Regions from separate parts of the Homo sapiens genome. Here region 2 is linked to region 1. Evidence: fine-mapped expression QTL. A gene starts in region 1. The other region holds a variant in brackets. All regions are shown on one strand. Distances are between the middles of the regions.

Evidence for each region. PIP is the estimated chance that this variant, and not a neighbour inherited with it, causes the effect.
Region 2: its variant is fine-mapped to the expression of THNSL1 in subcutaneous fat (GTEx, PIP 0.94).

What each region holds. Positions count from the first base shown.
Region 1 is chr10:25,014,154-25,019,536 of GRCh38, forward strand. THNSL1 (threonine synthase like 1) reads left to right here and starts at 2,459. Exons shown (of 3, transcript NM_024838.5): 1 at 2,459-2,539. ENKUR (enkurin, TRPC channel interacting protein) reads right to left here and starts at 2,005. Exons shown (of 6, transcript NM_145010.4): 1 at 1,707-2,005. The coding sequence starts at 1,783. RefSeq lists silencers at 2,011-2,060, 2,391-2,590, 2,771-2,850 and enhancers at 2,134-2,896, 2,207-2,501, 3,101-3,180.
Region 2 is chr10:25,066,147-25,071,529 of GRCh38, forward strand. No RefSeq gene overlaps it. Among named protein-coding and RNA genes, the nearest start is that of LINC01516, 44 kb to the right of the region's middle. RefSeq lists enhancers at 1,607-2,166, 1,784-2,983, 2,167-2,725. The variant G/A (reference allele first, on the strand shown) is at 1,947.

The DNA.
Region 1 (5,383 bases):
TCATTTAGTATCTTCATCTCTCATTATGGTTTTCAATGATAAATTTTAGTGTTCATATTTCAGTTCCCCAAAAAGACGGTAAACTCTGAGGCGTGGGAGATCAAAAGCCAGGCAGTTGTCAGAATCTTGCCAGTGTAAATTGACTTTAACCTAACAGAAATGATTCTTTTGGCATCACATTTGGGTGCCTCTATTTCCTCTAATCATAAATCTTTCTTCTACTCATTTCTTCATAGTAAAACCAAGAAGTCTGTGCTATCACTCCAACAGCACCAAGAACAGATATACTAGTGCAATATTATACACATAATAGGGGCTCCATTAATGCTTGCCAAATGAATAAAGACTGTTCCTATAAATTTTTTTTGAAAAAAAAAATCGTCTAGATGCAGTAAAGCTTTTTAATTTGCCAAAGAACAGAATACCTACCTAATAAAATAACTCTCAAATTCAATATTCTATAGAAATACAATCTACCAATCTGTTATAGAGGAGTTTTATCTCATGTAATATGCAGGAATTTGAAACCAAAAGTTGGTGCAACAATAGAAAATTTGAAAATAAATTCTGCAACTGTGCCATAACTTACTTTACATTCCTCTTTCCAGTCTCTAGATGTTGATATGCTAATGGAGATGTAATACAGTTACTGCTCTAATTTAAACCAGATACTTAAAATTGAAGAAGCTGCCTACTTGTTGAAGCTATTACCCTAATACTAGTAAAAATAATTGACCATTAGATCTAAAAGGGGCCTTGGATATTATCTGGTACATTTATCTCACAGATCAGTAAACAAATGAAACTTTATTCTAAAGTTCACAAAGACAATTAATTGCTAGGCCCGATTTTTAGTCCAGTCCTTTTCAAATGTGGTTTTGACTTGCATACGGACAAGGATGATGGTAAAAGACAGGAAACATTTCAAGTCCTAGGAGAAATGAGATTTTCTCCACTACTTTCTTTGCTCCCCACAGATTTAAGTAAGTTCTAAGAAGTCCCTACAGATGGGAGTAACTGAAGTGCTTCCTTTGCACGTTTTTGAGATTTGGAGAATTTAAGAGGTTCTAAGACCTATGTAAAATTTCAACTCAATTACATATTTTTTGGTTCATTATCTATCCACCAATTCTTCCTTCCATTTAAACCATTAGATCTGAAAAAGTCCTTAGAAACTGCCTAATAGTGGTAGATATTTCGTTTCACTGATCAAAAACCTGAGGCTCAAAAGCAAATGTAAATTTATATTTCATAAAAATCTTGGGGGAAAAGTCCTATCCTATCCCATTAGAGAGGGAGTAGTGCAGTTAGAAATACAACACCGAACTCCTGAAACCAAACATCAAGTATCCTTAAACAAGATAATAGAATTGTGATTTTTTTCTTTTCAACATGAAACTTCATACTATGCTGTATATCACATATAATTAAATTACACAATAATCACATACCGTATTAATAAGAGGTTAAGTGTAATATAATAAAATGGTCATCTCACAGCGCCAGACTGCCCTCTCTGTAAAACTGTGAGATGCTGAATACCTAGATATTTCGACCTTTTCTCTAACAAGTTATCCTCCAAGGCTACTTCATCGAGGCAAAAATACATTTTATTTATTATTAAAAATTCCAGTATATGTATGCTTAATTAATACTGAGTATTCCCCATTCTTGTTTCAAGTGATAGTCTTTGCTTATCCACATACCTAGGAGGCTGGGGAGGCTCCTTCAAGTCACTGGGTATGAGGTTATAAATGCACTCAGAAGAGCACGTTGGATCCATGGCCACCAAATGACTCCTTAAAAGCTACTCTCCACAACTTTTTTCTCCCTGTCCCAGTATCTCCGTCCCTTTCTTCACTGCTTCCCCTTTCTTTCTTCTTCGCCTTCTGAAGGACCACAGGTTCTCTCCTTCACATCGTCCCCCTTTAACCCCCTCTTAGCAGTCCTCTCTCGGGAAGAAAACACCCTATTTCTCTCCGGATTGCTAAGCGTCGTTGACTGTGCGGTTGCCGTGGAAACCGTTACTAGGCAACGAGGAAGTGGCAGGCAGCACCGCAAACTAGGTCTCCCCTCTTCCCTCTTTCTGCAGCGCCTTCTGCTAGAGAAGCTCATTTGGAAGCCACTGTTTTTACGTGCCTTTGAAAGTTAACGGGGTGAAAATGATGTCCCCTTAAAAACTGTGCTCTTTTCTATTTCTGTGTATCTGGGGAAAAAAGAAAAATCCTAGTAGAGACGGCAAAGCGCAGCTGGTGCGCAGGCGTCACCCAATAAGGTTTTTGTGAGCAGGCCCCAATCGCGGTGTGGGCGGAGCGAGCGGCTGAGACCACGAGGACGCAAGGCCAGCGCCGCCAGGGAGACGAGGGAGGGGAGGAGCCTGAGGAGATCGGAGTGCTCGGATAGGCTACAGTGAGAAAGGAGAGTCACGTGCCCTGCGCGAGGCCGCTCGGGGAAGGGCGTGGAGCGGAGGCACGCTGGCCGCCGCAGGCACAGGCGCAGAGTCCACTGCGCGGGGGCGGGACCGGGGAGCTAGCTGCAGGTACGGTGCTCCGTCTCCTGTGGAGGCTTTAGCGGCTCGTGGACACTGCTCCCCCATTTCCTTTCATTTCCCCCGTCTTCTCAGTGAGATTTCCTTGGTGAGTTATTGGAGGAGAAAGGAAGGAAAACTAGAAGCCAGCCCGCTCCCATCGCATGCCTTTCCCCGTACCGTCCCTTCCCCTTTCCGCTACTCGCTGGTCATCTCAACTCTGCGCGCATTTTTCCTGCTGCTTCTGGTCGAGGCTCCTCGGAACGCCGCGCAGCCCTGCCCGCCACGTGTGTGAGTGCGCGCACGGGGCCCGCGGCCTCCTCCGCCTGCTGCGCTCGCCCTCCCGCCCCTGCTCCCGGGACCGCCCCTTGGGCGGTCCTCCGGGTCGGCTCTGCGCCTGCTCTTCCCCGGGTCGGGACTCTTCCTCTAGGTCGTTCTCCAGGAACCAGTGGACCTGCTCTTTGTAAATGAGCAGCCTAAACTAAGAGGAGAAGCCTTTTAAGTGGGCCTTTACGTTTTTGTCCAGTTTTTGGTGTCCCTTGTTGGAAAATTGTCTTCTGAGAAGCGGTTTTATTCCTTTTTGTTCCACCTGGTCACCCGTAAATCTATGCACATGGGCCTGCCGTAGGAAAGTCATTTAGACGCTTTTACCCGAGTGTTTAAAAGACATTTTGGTAATAGGATTTGGGGAGGAAGATGGATGCCTCTGAACCACCGGTACAGAGGCCACTCTGCCCGAAGGAAATAAAGCTTCCCGGAGAGGAGAGAAAACACACTTGAGTCTGGGTTTCTCACTGCCTGGTTGGCTGGCGGAGTGATTAAAACAACACAATGGCCTGGTGAACCTTTTAGTTCCTGTATAAAAAGGCTTTACTGAATGTGTAGGTCCTTACTTTGGGCTCTTACTGAATTTCACTACATAAGAATACGTTAAGTTTTTCTTTTTTTTTTTTTTGTATACAGTTGATTTTAATTTTTGTCCCAGACGCTTAGGGAAAATTCTCCAGATTTCTTCACATCAGATTGTCTTCCAAAACATTTTAGATAGATGGATCTGTAGATCTATATTTAGATCTAGATCCAAATCTATATCACTTTGCCCCTTTCTTTTCGCCCTTGAGTATTTTATGTTTGGGATTTCTGTTTAGCAAGTATAGAGAAAAAATTTGGCGGGAAACCTCCTGTATGTACGAAGATTCGAACCAAGGACTCATGGAATGATAACGCCATTAGCCAAGTGGATAGTCACTGGCTAAAGCTTATGAATTTTCTAATTAGAAGGAACACCTTGAGACTATTTGTGTTAATCAGTTCCTGAAATAGCAAGTAAGGGCAAAACATGATTTCTGCAGTTAGCACCAACTGGCCTTTGGTAGCCTTGATGTTCTGGGGTTACTGAAATAAAATAATTTCACTGATGTCTGTATATTTATTATGCTTTAAAAAATGCTAAACAATTTGTGCAAGACCTCACTGTGGTATAGTTAGTTTACAGCCATGAGCAGGTTGTTAAATCATTTGGAAAAAAACTTTTCTTTTTTCTTAGACATTTGATCTGCAATTCTCCTTGCCTTTTGAAAGTGTGTTTAAGCAAAATTATTTCTAGTTTTTATAATGCTCTTGAAATGACACTTCAAAAAAATGCCTGTGTCCACCGCATGTCCACAGGGAATTAACTGGTATATACCTACAGGGATGAACAAACTGTCTATAAAGGGGTAGACAGTAAATATTTCAGGCCTTTTTAGGCCAAGTGGTTATGTTGCAACTACTCAGTTTTGCCATTGTAGCTCAAAAGCAGCCAAAGACGGTACTGAACAAATATGTGAGCACATGAATGACTGAAGTTGTGCTTCAAAGAAACTTGATTTATGAAAATGATGGTGGGCCAGATTTAGCCTGTGGATTGTAGTTTGCACAGATCCTAGATCCCCGTATATAATGGTATGCCTGTGATGTACATAAACAAATGAGAGTTGTTTTTTTTTTTTTTTTTTTTGCGAAGGATTATTTTAATCTATTTAAATGAATAAAATGGGTGTAGATGAGTATATAAGACAATTGGAAGGTAAATAAACCCTTTATAAAGACAGGTTCTTTATAATTCTCAAAGTTATAGAATTGTGGATACTAAAGTTTTCAATTAAATATTCGAGATCGTTAAGAATATGTCTAACAGCAGAAGTCTAACGGCAGAAAAAGCTTAGTCAGCTTTGATAGTAATATAAAGACTAAGTGATGAACTTGCAAAATTGTTTTAGTTGTGAGATCCTTGTGATTACAGAACTATACTGGATTGTGTGGTCCTTCCACCCTCACCTCTGTTTCATGGCAAGTGGGAGGCCCTCTGAATGAAAAGTTTGAGAGAATTTTTGGTCAGAAGTCAGAAGCAGTAGAGCTTAACCTCCTTTTGGCTAGTTTGTGTCCTGATACACAGTTAGTTCTCCATATCTGTGAATTTCCCATTCTCAGATTCAACTAATTACAGATTGAAAATATTTTAAAATTTTAGTTGGGCACAGTGGCTCATACCTGCAATCCAAGCACTTTTTGAAGGCCAAGGCAGGAAGACTGCTTGAGCCCAGGAGTTGGAGACCAGCCTGGGCAACATGGCGAAACCCCCTCTCTACTAAAAATACTAAAATTAGCTGGGTGTGGTGGTGCGTGCCTTTAGTCCCAGCTACTTGGGAGGCTGAGGTGGGAGGATTGCTTGAGCCTAGGAAGTCAAGGCTGTAGTGAGCCAAGATTGTGCCACTGCACTCCTGCCTGGGCAACAGAGTGGGAGCCTGTCTGAAAAACAAACAAAAACACGAAAATAATGGAACAGTAAAAATACCACAAACAAAAAAGCAAATT
Region 2 (5,383 bases), 52 kb after region 1:
CCTGCCAGTCACCCCAACAATCTTCCCAAGCATGGAAAGAAAGAAAAATTTAGAGTTCATTCAAGGGAAGTTCCAGGAACCTAGCTAGCCTTGAGAAGTAGATGAGGAACTTTATAATCGAGAAGATTTGCTGAGTATGTAAACCTGAACATCCTGCACATGTACCTGGGAACTCAAAATTTTTAAAAAAAGATTATATCAACCCTCTGTCAGAAGACATCATGAAAAAAAATACAAAACATTTAAAAAGGTAATAGCTTAAAACAATCACCAAGGAAGTTAGAGTCACAAAATGTTTTGTGACTATAGAAACTATAGAAACTAAAGACGACATCTTAACATGCGTCCCTGAGCTGTTTTTCAGAAACCCAGACGCCACCGAATGGAAAATACCATCTGCTAGAATGTAGACCTCAGAGAAGGGGAAGCTGAGGACTGAACTCTGACCGCCATTCTTTATCTAAATTTCTTCCTGGGGTCCTGGAGGAGGTCACACCCACGAGCCAGAGCTAACATTCTTTTCTGCTGGCCCCAAATTTTTAGAGAAAGCTTCAGCTCCTTAACCAATCTCAAATCAGAAAATCTTCTAATCTGGCCGGGCGTGGTGGCTCATGCCTGTAATCCCAGCACTTTGGGAGACCGAGGTGGTGGATCACCTGAGGTCAGGAGTTCGAGACCAGCCTGGCCAACATGGTGAAACCCCGTTTCTACTAAAAATACAAAAGTGGCCAGGCATGGTGGTGTGCTTCTGTTATCCCAGCTACTTGGGAGGCTGAGGTAGGAGACTCACTTGAACCCAGGAGGCAGAGGTTGCAGTGAGCCAAGATCGCATCATTGTACTCCAGTCTGGGCAAAAAGAGTGAAACTCGTCTCAAAGTAAAATAAAATATCTTCTAATCTACCCCAGCATACCTGCTTTGAGATGTTCCCCCTTTTTAGGTCAAACCAATATGTCGCCTTCATGTATTGATTTATGGCTTTGCTTGTCACCTCTGGCTCCCCACCTTTGAAGTCCCTTACCTGTAAACTGTCAGGGAATTCACATCTTAACCACATGCTGTCAATTCTCCTTCCTGGGCATCCTGCAATAAATCTCCCACTTTCTCTTGCTGCAATCCTGATGTGAGTATTGGCTTTGCAGAGCCCAGTGCGTGGACCCAAGGTTGGTTCAGTAACAAAGGAAATCAGGACCATTTAGGCCACTGTTGGACATTCCCAAGACCAGAAAATTCTTTATTTTAAGCTAAAATCCAATTTGAAATGAATTGACATTATGAAAAATTTATTTATTTTATTGCAATATTTTGCCCTAAAAAAAAATAATTTTAGATTGCACTGAAAGGCACATAATATTTTAGAAAGCTCCAGGCATGGTGGCTCATGCCTGTAATCCCAGCACTTTGGGAGGCTGAAGCAAGCAGATCACTTGAGGTCGGGAGTTCAAGACCACCCTGGCCAACATGGTAAAACCCTGTCTCTACTAACAAAAATACAAAAATTAGCTGGGCATGGTGGCGAGCGCCTGTAGTTCCAGCTATTCTGGAGGTTAAGGCAGGAGAATCACTTGAACCCATAGGCGGAGGTTGCAGTGAGCCAAGATTGTGTCATTGCACTCCAGCCTGGACAAGAGAGCGAGACTCTATTTCCAAAAAAATATATTTTAGAAAGGGATGAGGGAGTTCATAATCCTCCTGAAATTATGTAATTATGTACAAAAGTATGTATATGCGTATGTGCTCTTCGTTTTTTCTTTTTTCTGCATATTGGGTCCAGAGCTTTCATGGGACACCTAAGGGTCCTCAGTGATTCTGTGCTATCCCAGAAGTGTGATGTTGAGTTGAAGGTGTCACACTTAAACAAAATACAGACAGGCCACATCTCACTCAGGGGGAGGCATCCTGGCTCCATCAGCTTGCCCAGGGTGGCAGGGTCTTCTCTTTAGCCCA[G/A]AATAAGTACCCTTTCCCAATCAGAGCCCAGTGAATGTGCCATCTGTCTCAAGCCCAGCCACATAAAATCATGATGCTACCCGGGGCCTTTGTTTCGGGTAGTGCTCTTATTTTTCAGGGTGGCAGCCTGTCTGCGCCTTGACTCCTCTACGTCAGCACTGCTCAGCTATGGAAAAGTCATGAGGGATAATGGTGGTGTTTGTAGAGCCAGCATGTGTCATGTGGGTTTTCAGACAAAGGGATACAGAGACTCATGCTTTACTAACTCATCATCTGCATACCCATTCGGGAAGAGGAAATGACTGGGGCCACATCACTCCAAGCTTGTCTCTACTTGTCCTTGTGACGAGTATCTCACGCACACAAAGGGACACTTTTTTCTCTTGTTTTCACTAGCAAGTCCTATGTAGGGATGACATCATCTCTGTGCTGATTTACTTTAAAATACTTTCGTGCAATCGACACCCTAGGAGGAGGGAGGAAGGAGGAGGTATTTGAAGTACCCTAATCAGACATCCACGTTCCAAGAGTTGTTAGTTAGCATTTGAAACATCCTAATTAGGGATCCACACTTAGGAGGGGGTTACTTAGCACTTCAAATATTGTTATTGAAATCTACCCCACAAACGGTGTGTTCATTAGCATAAGAGATGGTGGAAGTAAAAATTTCCCTGGTGGAATGGTAGCTTTCAAGGGATGATTTTGACTGGAAAGAGTGTGCTTCCCACCACCCCAGCTGGAACAAGGTTTAAGAATGCAGCAAGCCAAAGACAATACTCCCATAGACAAACTACAGGTACAGAGCCCCATGCTTCCTGAGGCCCCTACATCCCCCCTTTCATACTGTATGTAGGACTCTGTTGTCCTGTCTTTAAAATATGGTGGCATTCCATTGCAGTGTACATTTTTATGTGCATTTTCAGTGCAAGGTGCTTACCAGAGTGTCCAGGATCAGAGAGCAGGACTAGACATCAACAGGTGAATGAGAGTTTCTGTGCCTGCTCACTAAGTCTTGCTTTCACCAGCTAATAAATGCTGAAACCTAGTGAGTAGTGACTACCTGTCACTAACTGCTGTTTAGTCCCCTGTTCAATGGAATGGTTAAACTGGCAACACCAGGTCTCAAAGAAAATCAAAGATAAATAAACTAGAGCCTTAGCATATAAATATCCTCAAGTTTCTCCTGTACAATTTAAGATCTTTCAAGAAGGCCAGGCACAGTGGCCTGTAATCCCGGCACTTTGAGAGGCCGAGGCAGGAGGATTGCTTGAGCCCAGGAGTTTGAGACCAGCCTAGGCAACATAGGGAGATCCCGTCTTTACAAAAAAATGAAAAATTACCTGGCTGTGGTGGCACACACCTGTGGTCCCAGCTACCCAGGAGGCTGAGGTGGGAGGATCACTTGAGCCTGGGAGGTGGAGGCTGCGGTGAGATTATGTCTATAAGGAGCTCAGTGCCTGCACAGGAAAAATGTGATCATTTTTGCTTTTATTATTAATCACCTAGTTAACTTCCACTTGATCATTAAAATTCATCTCAAGTGTCTTCCTTTCTTAGAGGTTTCTCTAGTCACCTCCTTAAGTCCCTACTCTGTGTTGTCACAAAGCCTGACCAACCTCTATGGAAGCATGTACCATACTCTATGGCTAATTTCTTTTTATGTGTTAATCTCCACTGTTAGCTCCTTGAGGGCAGGAATTATGCCTTGTTTGTTTTATGTCCCCGGTACCTACTATATAATAGATATTCAAGAAATATTGAATGAATGAACAAATGCATAAATTAGATGGGGATATACAGCTTTATGCAGAGACCCCCTGGGAGGGGTCTTTGAGAGTTACCATCCTACCCAATGGTTGAATGGTAGTTGGGGGGAAGAGGAGAAAACTGAGTTCGATTTGGAAATTACAGATAGAATTTTGCTTAATATATAGAAGCACTTCTGTGATTATCAAAAAATGGAAAGGAATACTTCAGTGGTATTTCTCCAAAGTTATTTCAGCAGAGGTTAGTAGCGTGGTGAATTTTATTCACTCACTCCATAAGAGATTTGCCTAGGAGTTATTGTCTATCTCTAACATTGCGTGACAATTCCATACGAGAAATAAAGGGCTATGAAACAGTCTCCCATAAACATTTGGGCTTTATTGCATGTTGATTCTATGTCTTAATATCCTTATCTCTTCTCCTAAATGTGCTTTTTAGTTTTCAAATGATCTGTATCTCTTTTTGATCAGCTCCCTTACTTATATATGTACTTATAGGCAGTTTTTTTGATAAGATGACATAATCTGTGAGGCTTTTGCTTGGCTGTTGGGAAATGGAGATAATTGTAAATTATTCATATCAAATTGTTGGATTTTAGGTCTACTTGCTGAAAACACAGGGATGGCCAAGGAGGTCATTTTGGTTTTAAAACCAGAATGGCTTTAAACAAAAAATGGCTTTAAGACCAAAAGTCAGGTAAATCTTGTGCTGAACTAAACCTCTAACTTCACAGTGTTATTCATTGAATGCTAAAAAAATTTTATAAAGCCTCCAGAGAATAGTCAAACCCCCAATAAATCCAAGGCCCACACTACTTTTTCCAATTGCAGTAGCCAATTGATGATTGAATGGGAATATTTGCAAGCCATAACTGTCTTCAGACCATGTAACCAGGAAACTAACCATGTTATCTCTGGAACAAGCCTTTCCACTCAGTGCAGGACACAGAGGGGGCCTTTCCACTAAGCAGACAGACTTTTTATTTTGTGAGTAGGTAAAAAATAGATCTAATCTACTCATCTAGAATGATCTTGCCATTTTTATTATAAAAATCAGAGAATGGCAGCACTGTAATAAACATTTAGCAATATATATTTTTTTTCTGAGGCTTTTTTGGAAATACAGAGAGGCTTCTATTACCTTAGGAAATAACCAGGTAACTCCAAGTATTTATATCCTATACACACTTTTTCTTCATTCCTTTATGGATTTTTCTCTGTATCAGTTGAGTAAGGATCTGAGATAGAATGGAAGCTATGCTTTAAGAATATGGATGCCTCTTTTCAGCACCAGGTAGAACGAAGACCAAGATAGGCAGCTAAAATGTGATACTTCCAAGCAAGATAGATTTGAATTGATTTGATAATGATCTGATTTGCCTCTCTGTCTTGGACATAAGAACAGAACATTGGCTATATCTTGACTTCACTTGAGGCCATTTAGAGACAGGGTTTATTGACATTTAACCCTAAGAATTTTCCTTGGCTTTAACAAACTATAAGTATACTATTGTTCTTCATGATGAATGTGACAACTGGTCACATCTTGTGGATCACATTAAGGAGATTAAAATTCCTGGCAAAAGCCTATGTATAACTAAGTGGCTTCATGGCCCACTGACAAAAACAAGCCATTATGGGGTTTCTGCAGGTCTTTTATTATTTGAAAAA